Linked DNA regions of Homo sapiens. The protein of the gene in region 1 purifies or fractionates together with the protein of each later gene. This does not show direct contact. Each region holds a gene or a part of one and is shown in the gene's direction. Other genes may lie near its edges.

Region 1 (3,500 bases):
TCACAAATTTTAGGATTTTTTTTTTTTTTTTTGGTTTATCCTCCTAACAAAAGTTCTTTCAGAGTTGAGAGTCCTGTTAAGGTGGCATGTTCATGATTTTTAAGTTTGAATAGATGAAGTGTTCATGATAGAATGTCATCTTTTAAAAATGGTGAACGTGCTTACAGATCTTATAAAAAGAGAATTGAAATAATTATTAAATAAAATATATAATTGTATAGTTTCCTTGAATATAAGTTATATTTTTTAAAAATCCAGGATTGAAGCTTCTAGTATTCTTCTTAACTGCTAAACTGAAATTACTTTCTCTGTGTTTGTATATACTATTAAAAATATGTTGTAAAAGAGAAAGAGAGAGAAAGGTAATAGCGGGATATGAACTGGGGTTTGAGCCACCATCCTAACACTTACTAGTTTAATTGTCTTTTGCAAGTTACTTCTTTAAGTCGTGTGTAATTCAACTGAAAGTGGAGATTTTAAGAGTGTTTATCTCATACATTTCAGGAAAGATTAGGTGAAATAATCCATGTAAAGCCCTTAATGTAGTGTCTGTCACATAGTAAATTTTCAGTAGATGTTAGTTTTTATTGTTCTAATGTTATAGATATCACGTACTATATTATACAACATGGATTCATATATTTCACTTAATAATCATTAGTAATGGATGGGTGATTCATTTACATCAAAAGGGTCAAAATAAAAAATAAATTCTCAGAGAGTTAAGCTTTTTTTGGCAAAGAATAAGAAACCAGTATGTTGCAGTATTTTAGAAATATGAGGAATTCAGTATTAGTAAAACTTACTATGGGCTGGGCGCAGTGGCTCATGCCTGTAATCCCAGCACTTTGGGAGGCTGACGCGGGCGGATCACTAGGTCAGGAGATCGAGACCATCCTGGCTAACATGGTGAAACCCCGTCTCTACTAAAAATACAAAAAATTAGCCAGGCGTGGTGGCGGGCGCCTGTAGTCCCAGCTACTTGGGAGGCTGAGGCAGGAGAATGGCGTGAACCCGGGAGGCGGAGCTTGCAGTGAGCCGAGATAGCCCACTGCACTCCAGTCTGGGAGACAGCAAGACTCCGTCTCAAAGAAACAAACAAACAACAACAACAAAAAAACTTACTATGAAATATGGACACCTGTTTTAAAAATGCATTACAAATATCTGTTTCAGTCTTTGCACCTAATATGTATAAGATATATATAACTGAATTTGAGGATGTTGTGTGGAAAATATTACTTAACAAGTTATTATTTAATATACATATATAAAGAATCCCAAACAGATCTACATAAGGAAAAAAATTACAGTATAGATTTCTAAATTAATTGCCAGAACAATGGCCCCCTTTTTTGAATTTCTCTGGCATCTTCAGTAGGGAAGGAAGTGAGTAGTATCTCATTCTCCAGTCAACTCATGAACACCCAGGGGCTTGTCTCTCAAGGCAGTGGGAACCTCCTCCTGGTGTACCTCAGGTCTTTGAGGTAATGATCTGCAGCTTCTGGCCTTTCTCTCAATAAGGCCCAGGTGGTCTGGGGAAATATGTCTTGCTTGTTGGTCTCTTGCTCTTTTTCTCTGTCTTCTCTGCTCACTTTTTCTATTTCCTTCCGCTTGGTGATAGATAAAATAAATTTCAAATGTATTTTGATATGTACTGCTTTTCACCAGGTTCCTAGTAAATTAATGTGCTCATATAGGCCAATCCAGATATCTTAAAAGATCACTGGATGTGCACCCAGACCACAGTAGATCACAGTTAGGCCTCCAGCATGGTCTGACCTGTTCAGAATAAAGAGGCCTTTGGTTGAGGGTGAGCCTTATACAGACTGGTTCTTTGTGTGCCTGTGATCATTGGAGAGTCTAAATTGAGATTCTCCCTTTCCCACTTAGGATTGAGGCATCTTGTTTTAAGGCCATATGGCAGATGTTAATAACCAACAGACTTCATGGGTTATACCTCAAACTTTATAAGCAAAGATTACTAACTGAATGAAGCATGCATTCTATTCTATTCACTCTGCAAGTGTTAGAATTTATTGGCCTCTCCTGTTGGCAAAGATCACACTTTTGGTTGAGCTCTATCTTGGCTACTGCTTTTCTAGAGCTGCAATCTGGCAGTTTGGGAGGCTGCATATGGCTCTTAAACACTGTTTGGCACATAGAGTATTTTAAGGTTTTTTGCTTTTGTTTTTGTTTTTTGACACCTTTAGCAGAGGCAGGCAATCTACAGTTCCCTTCATGTCCTCTTATTATTTGTAAGACTCTTCTTTCACGTTTATTTTCCCTGCCTGGCTTACATAGGCATAAAAGTTTTGATCTTTTGAACTAGATAATGCACATATTGCAAGTTTCATGATAATATTCTGTAGAAAATGAAGTGATTTTCCAGTGAGACTGAGAGGCATATTTAAAATACTTTAATTTATGGAAGAGTTAATATGTTACAAATTTGGCCATTAAAATTGTATATCATATAACATAGTTACATTTTATTATAGATATGTTTTTAGTAAATAACAAAAATATTCTCACTGTTAAAAATTATTTATACATTCATGTTCATTTTGTGTATTAGCAGAACTGAAAGTTTTGTTTTTTGATTTTGTTTTTAACAAGATCACTTATATTCAATTCATAAAATAATTTTAATTCTGATTATTGTTCTTCTCCCTTTGAAGGAGTTTTGCATTTCTTCTAAGAGTCAGTTTAAGAATAGTTTGTATTTATCATTTTAATGTTTGCAGTAAAATAGAGCCAAAGAAGATATCTATTTCATTCAATTAAATGTTATTTCAAAGACAGCAGGGTTCTATGTTGGTAAAAATATTTATCTGTAGTTTTAAAAATTATTTCATAAGACTAACTAGATTTTCATTAGACTCCTTAAAGTGATAATTTTACACTAGAATGTTTTATGTTCAATCTTAGTTTCTTAAAGTCTGTAAACACCCTAGGAAATTACATTATTTCACAAAAGGATATGTTCTGGAAGTGTTTTCCTGAGCTTGTAAGTAATATCAGAAAGCTGTACCATATGAAACTGAACTATCAATAAGTTCTTAATAACATATTTTTAAGGTTAAAATATCTGTGTTATTCTTATAGGGCTGCTGCACATCCTTCTTAGCTTCCTATTCCATATAAATTTCCCTTTTTTTTTGACACAGAGTTTCACTCTTGTCGTCCAGGCTGGAGTGCAATGCTGCAATCTTGGCTCACTGCAACCTCCCCCTCCCAGGTTCAAGTGATTCTCCTGCCTCAACCTCCCGAGTAGCTGGGATTACAGACATGCACCACCACACCCAGCTAACTTTGTATTTTTTTTAGTAGAGATGGGGTTTCTCCATGTTGGTCAGGATGGCCTCGAACTCCCAACCTCAGGTGATCTGCCTGCCTTGGCCTCCCAAAGTGCTGGGATTACAGGCGTAAGCCACCGCGCCCAGCCAAATTTCCCTCTTTTCTAATGTTGATTTTACTCAATCATGAACATGTTTATG
Region 2 (3,500 bases), on another chromosome or scaffold:
ATATGTCCCATCTCATTTACTCTTCATAACCATCCCATTTTACAGTCAGGGAAACTGTCTGGATTTGAACTCAGAAGACCATGATAAAGGCAAAATCAGAAGTCACTTTTAGTCCTGAGTTTCTGGGGTCTGAGATTCCTCCTCATCTTGGTCAGAGATATAACTGGGTTCAGATAGCTTCAAGACTACCTTTTCTTTTATTTCCCAACCTGTGAACCAAAAGGGTAGTGAGTGTGAATCTCTAGCATGCACAGATGTGCAAGAAATACTGCCTCTCCTCTATTTTCTAGATATTAATATTAGTTTAGAGCCTTCATCTCATCTGGCCAGCAACCATAGAAATCACCCCAGGTTGTGTCACTGTGTCACAATTTCAGATCTCTTATGCATTGCCAAGATCCCAGGGGCTCGGGTGCAGGTATCTCCTGCTCCCCCATCTGGTCCACTCGGGTTACCACTGAAGGCACTCTTGTGCCTGTCTTGCCTAGCAAGTCCTCACTGCTTCCAGACCACATAGCTAACTCACTGGGGTCCTGCCAGAGTCCTGTCTTCCTGGTGCTGACAGACCCCTTTTCCCTTCCTGTCTTCCTGTTTCTAGAAGCATGTCTCTCTGCTTTACCCATCAGCACACCCCACCCCTCTTCCCCCAACTTGGCAAAGACTTTGTGTCCCCAACCTAAGGCCCTGTTTGGAAAATCAAAGCCAGAAGAACTTGCAGGCTATTCCTGGTAGGGTTCTGACATATACCTGCCCTGGACCAATGACTAGGGAGCTGGCTACAGAGGTGGAGGTGAGCCTAGGAAAGCAGAAATACAAGGAGAGGGGGAAAAAAAAGTCAAATCTCAAAATATCTAGCCGCAGACATAAGCTCCTCTGAGGGTAATTTCTTGAGGGGGGAAAAAGTTGCTATTTAAAGCTAGGATATATGTGGTTCCATTTTTTTCATCGGTACATTAATAACATCATTTTCCACTATGTATCTTCAAGATCCGGTGTAACAGCCTTGCAAATTTGCCAGAATGAAGAAGGAATGTTCTGCTTCAGGGAGGATTGGCCCTGGTCTATGATTGCTGTCATGATGATACTCAGCAAGTTTCCTTAGATAACTTCAGAGTTAACAAGGATTTAAAAATGCTTCCATTTCAAACTCACCGTTATACATATGCAGAAACTGAGGACAATGAAAGTTAGAGTTGTCTAGGATACCCAGACTGTGGCTGAAGGAGGACTAGAACCGATATTTATCCTCTCCCAGCCCAGCATTTTTGCCATGGTCTCATGTATCTCGAAAGTAACCACCACTAGCAAGTTGGAGCCAAATCAACTAGCTGACTCCCTGCCCTGACTCAGAATGGAGCATAGCCACCCTGGGCAGCCTGCCCAGGCAGATTCCACATGCAGTAAACCTCCTTCGGGTCCCAGGACACTGGGCACAGGGTGGGGACCTGTGCTTCCAGCAGGGGTGCGCTCCCCAGCCTCACCTGTCCCTGCTTACAGTCCCTCAGGCAACACCAGTGAAATCATCTTCCTCTCAGGGCATCCTCATCCTGGCCTGAGTGCCCCCCACCTTTCCTTCTCAACCTCTTCAGGGCTTACCTTGCATCAGGGGGTGTCTCCAGCAGCTGCAGGGTGCATTGGATTTTATCTGCCTGGGAAGCTTTCTCTTGATTCCTTTGCTAGCCCAGCACAGACTACACATCCCTCTCAGAACAGTTCTCAAGTGTTTGATACTCTCTCTTCACATTCCCATTTCGTATCTAACTGATCAGGTTAATAGGGTTCCTAGTTGCCGGTCACCACCCCCACCCCAGCTGTTTCCAATTTACATCACACTCCAAATGATTTTTGCAGCGCTTAGCAGATTGTCTGTGTCATTACTTTCAGGGATGCTATACTGGACTTCCCTACTCTCATCTGCTCCAGCCCCCTGACCTTATAGTTGCCCAGCTTTCCTGGCAATTGACTTTGCCCATCAATACACAGGATTTAGCATCCAGGGAAGATGTCGGAGCCTCAGATGTTAATTTTCTAATTGAGAATGTTGGCGCTGTCCGAACCTGGAGACAGGTAGGGATGTTCACTTTCTGGGCGAGCCACCTTTTCCCGACGATTTTAAATGTTGTGCTAGTTGTTCGTTTTTAATAATCACTAAAAATTATTTCTTTCAATCAGATGCTTTAAAATTGTGTGCTAAAGAGTTATAATGTGCAAACAACGGGGAAGCCATTCTGTACCTAAACCATGTGTTTTCAACATAACTTTTCAGAGTATCAGCGCCTTTGCTTGCTGCTGTTTTTGCTGTTTTTTGATGCTGGGAACCACCACCTAAAGATAGTAAAGAAAACACAGGAAGCTTTCCGGTAACTCATGCTAAAGAAACACAAAATCACCCCAGTGCCTTGAGAAATTTCCTTTCCCTCTCTAACTTTCCCCTTCAGTGTTCTAAAGGGAAGGCGTTTCTGGTAAGGTGTAGTTGCGTAAATGATGGCTGCCTACTTCAGCAAGCAAGAACTGTTGGAGTATTAAGCATGGGTAACTGGATATTCTGGTTTGGGCACTGGAGGATCCCTGGAAGCCGGAAGCAGGCTGTTGCTGCCGGGGTAGGGGCGGCGGGGGTGGGAGGTAGAAACTTATTGCTGTGATTTTATAGGCAGTAAACTGATGCTTAGAGAGGTTCAGCACTCGCCCAAGCTCACACACCTACTAAACTGTGGAGCTAGGATTTGAATCCAGCTACAAATTTAGTTGTCATTGAAATGTCTAAATGCACTCTACTGCGCAAGCGATAGGAACTTCCCAGCGGAGCTCAGCTCAGGGACGCTTGCAGCTCCCCGCGCCCCGCTCGACTCTCCGGCCGCGGCTCCGCGGGCTCCTCCCCCTCGGTCCCTGCCCCTTTTGCGCCCTCTGCTGGTCTCTAGGGAAAGCGCATCTCCTGAAATCAGAAGTCGCACCCAAGCTGTCCCGTTTCCTTAGCTCCTAGTAAAGCGATATGACCCATCCATCCCCTCCTCCTCAAAGCCTCACATGAATCTTCTTTGAGGTACTCTCTGATGCTTCACTCTTCAGCGCTGAGAAAAATGGGGAGGAAGGGGAAGTGAATGTATTAGTATAGCCCCTTCTCAAAACCAATCGTGCAGCATCTTAGCCATGCCTTATCCTGGAAGAACGAGGCAGCTCACGTGGGCATGGGGGTAATGAGCAGGGAGGCAATTACAGACTCTTAGGTTCTCACCGCTAACAGTGTGGTCAGTGGACCAGCAGCAGCATCACGTGGGAGCCCGTTAGAAATGCAGACTCTCAGGTCCTTCAGCCACAGCCCTGATGAATCAGAATCACCGTTTCAAGGAGGTCTCAGGCGGGCCGTTTCAGGTTCCGAGCTCGCTTTGAGGCTCTGTGGATGTTTTGCAGCATATTCAATTTTGTTTTGTTCAAAGGTCACAGTGACAACTAAGTTTGCAGCGGGATTCAAATCCGAGCTCCACAGTGTAATAAATGTGAGA
Region 3 (3,500 bases), on another chromosome or scaffold:
AGCTAGAAGAAGGTATTTGTTAAGCAGAATAATTAGGTCAGGCCCACCCAAAAATGTACTTTTATGAGAGTACATCTCTGGGAAATTATGAGTTTTTGTAGCTAGCCAAGAGAGAATACCATAGGGAATAGAACCAGAACTGATACTGGAGCTTCAGTTGAGACCACAAAGGGGACTGACTCCTCAGACCAAGTGGAAGGTTTAGACCTGTTCTGTGTTCTGTGGAACTGCTCATGGGTTTGCCCAGGAAAAAAGATGGTATGGCTAAATAAGTTGGTGAAACATGTACTATATTGTCTTTTTCTGGCTCCTGGGCACCAGACTTGCCATTAACACATTTACAGATTTTAAAAGGTTTGCAGTGAAAAAATTTGCCTGCCCAGCTTTGTGCTTCGCCAAACTTGCAGCCTCTATTTGTGCAGAACCTCTCTTTACATCTCACAAGTCATTACTTTGCCATTGGAAACCACTTAGGAAATGCTGCAGCAGCTTTGTGTACTCCACGGCAGGTATCTGTGTGAAGGATAGACGGTAGCAATAATATATATTGAATACATTGTATTTATATAACACGTGCATTCCCTTGTGTTCTCTTTCTGTGAGGCACACTTTGAGATCATTATTTTAGTTTTAATAATATAGGAACTTTGAAAAGCAATGTAAATCTGTAGTTTAACCGTACCAGTTTTGAGGAGAGGAGTATGTTGAATGTCGATTGTACTTTGTATAAATGTTTAAAAATTAACATACATTTTAAGTTCCCCTCCCTTGTTTTTCAGGAATATTGGTATAATAGCATATATGTTGTTAACTCACACATCACCATTTGTGGGAGAAGATAATCAAGAAACATACCTCAATATTTCTCAAGTTAATGTAGATTATTCGGAAGAAACTTTTTCATCAGTTTCACAGCTGGCCACAGACTTTATTCAGAGCCTTTTAGTAAAAAATCCAGAGTAAGTAATAATTTGTTTAAATACTATTACAAATTTAATTTGTTTAAATACTATTACAGAATAAATAATATATACCTATTAAGAAAGTATATTCTAAAATAGTATAAAATTATTAGAAATATGTACAAGTTCTAGGTAAAATAGGTGGTATGAGCAATCATTAACAAATACATAACTTCAGATATAAAATATACAACAGGGGATTTTGAAGTAAAGAAAAGATTTGAGTTACTTCTCTCACAAACCACTACTAATCCCTGAAATTACCTAAAATAATTAGTCATAGAAATTTACAATACACATGGCTGGTTATGATAAGACTTTATTGTAAATGATTTACAGTTTAATGATTTTACGGCCGGGCGCGGTGGCTCACGCCTGTAATCCCAGCACTTTGGGAGGCTGAGGCAGATGGATCACGAGGTCAGGAGATTGAGACCCTCCTGGCTAACACGGTGAAACCCCATCTCTACTAAAAATACAAAAAAATTAGCCAGGCATGGTGGCAGGCATCTGTAGTCCCAGCTACTTGGGAGGCTGAGGCAGAATGGCGTGAATCCGGGAGGCAGAGCTTCCAGTAAGCAGAGATCGCGCCACTGCACTCTAGCCTAGATGACAGAGCAAGACTCCGTCTCAAAAAAATAAATAAAATAAAATAATTTTACATACATAACAAGTATCATTTACTGATTGTGAAATCTTGAAGGATTGGATGCCCTTTGACAACCTTACAAAAGAAGCGAGTCAGCTGAGCGAGGTGGCTCACGCCTGTATTCCCAGCACTTTGGGAGGCCAAGGCGGCCAGATCATGAGGTCAGGAGTTCGAGACTAGCCTGGCCAATATAGTGAAACACCATCTCTACTAAAAATACAAAAGTTAGCCGGGCATGGTGGCATGCACCTATAGTTCCAGCTACTCAGGAGGCTGAGGCAGGAGAATTGCTTGAACCCAGAAAGCAGAGGTTGTGGTGAGCTGAGATCGCACCACTGCACTCCAGCCTGGGTGACAGAGTGAGACTACATTGCAAAAAAAAAAACCAAAAAAAAACCAAAAGTGATTTGGAGGTTAGTTAAGCACCGTCTTTCAAAATATAAAGACCCACTAGCTTTACTAGTAACTCATCCTATGAACATAATTAGAGAAGATCCCAAAAAACATTTTCTCAATATTCATTGAAGCATATTTATAATAGCAAAATGCTAGAAGCTTCAATGGGCATCTGGTTAAATAAATTATGGTGTATCCATATGGAAGAGTACTAAATAATACAGCTGTTAATAAATATGTTAACTCTGTACTGATGTGGAAAAATGCTTGAGATGCATTATTGAGTAATAAAGCAAATTGCAGAAACATGGAGTATGTGAAGCTGTGTATGTGTATGTGTGTGTATATGTTTGTGTATGTATATGCACATATATGTAGAAAAAATATCTGGAAGTGGGATTGGGGAATGAGAAAACAATTTTACTTTTTATCTTCATGAGAGATAATATGGTGTAATGCTTAAAAGCACAGACGATAGAGTCAAAGTTCCACTTAACTACCATTTACAAGTTAGGAGATTTGGGGTAAATTTCAAGCCTCCTGGTACCCTACTTTGCATATCTGTTAAATGAGGGTAATAATAGTACCCATTTCATGAGTTTGTTATGATTGTTAAATAATGTATTTGAAGCGTATAGAATAGTCCCTGGCATATAACTAAGCATTCAGTAAATGTTAGCAGCTATTATCATTATTATTCTCTTCTGTACTGTTTGGATTTTATACTATGAGTATGTTTTATTTTCACAAGAAGTAAAAAATATGTCTATAATCTATCAAACTGAAGACATTTTCAACTTGATTTTTAGTTCTCAATTTTCCCTTGGTGCTTTCTTTCAAAGGAAAAGACCAACAGCAGAGATATGCCTTTCTCATTCTTGGCTACAGCAGTGGGACTTTGAAAACTTGTTTCACCCTGAAGAAACTTCCAGTTCCTCTCAAACTCAGGATCATTCTGTAAGGTCCTCTGAAGACAAGACTTCTAAATCCTCCTGTAATGGAACCTGTGGTGATAGAGAAGACAAAGAGAATATCCCAGAGGATAGCAGCATGGTTTCCAAAAGATTTCGTTTCGATGACTCATTACCCAATCCCCATGAACTTGTTTCAGATTTGCTCTGTTAGCACTTTTTTCTTTGACTCATTTGGACTGAATTTGAAATTTTATATCCACTCCAGTGAGATTATGATTTGTAGCTTCATATATGACATGTTTATATTGTAAATGCACTTTTCCATGGAATAATTTAGGGAAGTGTTTTAATGTTAAATTACTAGTTGCTAGCATGTTATGATTTCATATCCTGAGATAGCTCTGCAGATAAGAAAATATTTAAATATATGACAAAAAGTAAAATTGTACATGTGAGTTTACATGTTAATGAAATAATTCAACTTCAAATGAACTTACCAGAATGTTTTGCATATCAACAAAAAAAGTGGCTTGAGTTTTATTATAGTTGGTGTAAACTGAACACAGTGAAGACATTGGA

What was found. The genes of interacting proteins can lie anywhere in the genome.
Region 2: the proteins of CHSY3 (region 1) and TLR5 purify together in Homo sapiens (affinity purification with mass spectrometry; one large-scale study listed by BioGRID and IntAct). This does not show direct contact.
Region 3: the proteins of CHSY3 (region 1) and STK17B purify together in Homo sapiens (affinity purification with mass spectrometry; one large-scale study listed by BioGRID and IntAct). This does not show direct contact.

Annotation. Positions count from the first base shown.
Region 1 is NC_000005.10:129,910,965-129,914,464, forward strand, and holds part of CHSY3 (chondroitin sulfate synthase 3), read left to right. Parts: intron 1-3,500. UniProt on the Homo sapiens protein: Has both beta-1,3-glucuronic acid and beta-1,4-N-acetylgalactosamine transferase activity. Transfers glucuronic acid (GlcUA) from UDP-GlcUA and N-acetylgalactosamine (GalNAc) from UDP-GalNAc to the non-reducing end of the elongating chondroitin polymer.
Region 2 is NC_000001.11:223,133,249-223,136,748, reverse strand, and holds part of TLR5 (toll-like receptor 5 precursor), read left to right. Parts: intron 1-1,884; 5' UTR 1,885-2,067; intron 2,068-2,266; exon of another isoform or gene 2,267-3,500. UniProt on the Homo sapiens protein: Pattern recognition receptor (PRR) located on the cell surface that participates in the activation of innate immunity and inflammatory response.
Region 3 is NC_000002.12:196,137,079-196,140,578, reverse strand, and holds part of STK17B (serine/threonine-protein kinase 17B), read left to right. Parts: intron 1-779; coding exon 780-959; intron 960-2,849; coding exon 2,850-3,132; 3' UTR 3,133-3,500. UniProt on the Homo sapiens protein: Phosphorylates myosin light chains. Acts as a positive regulator of apoptosis.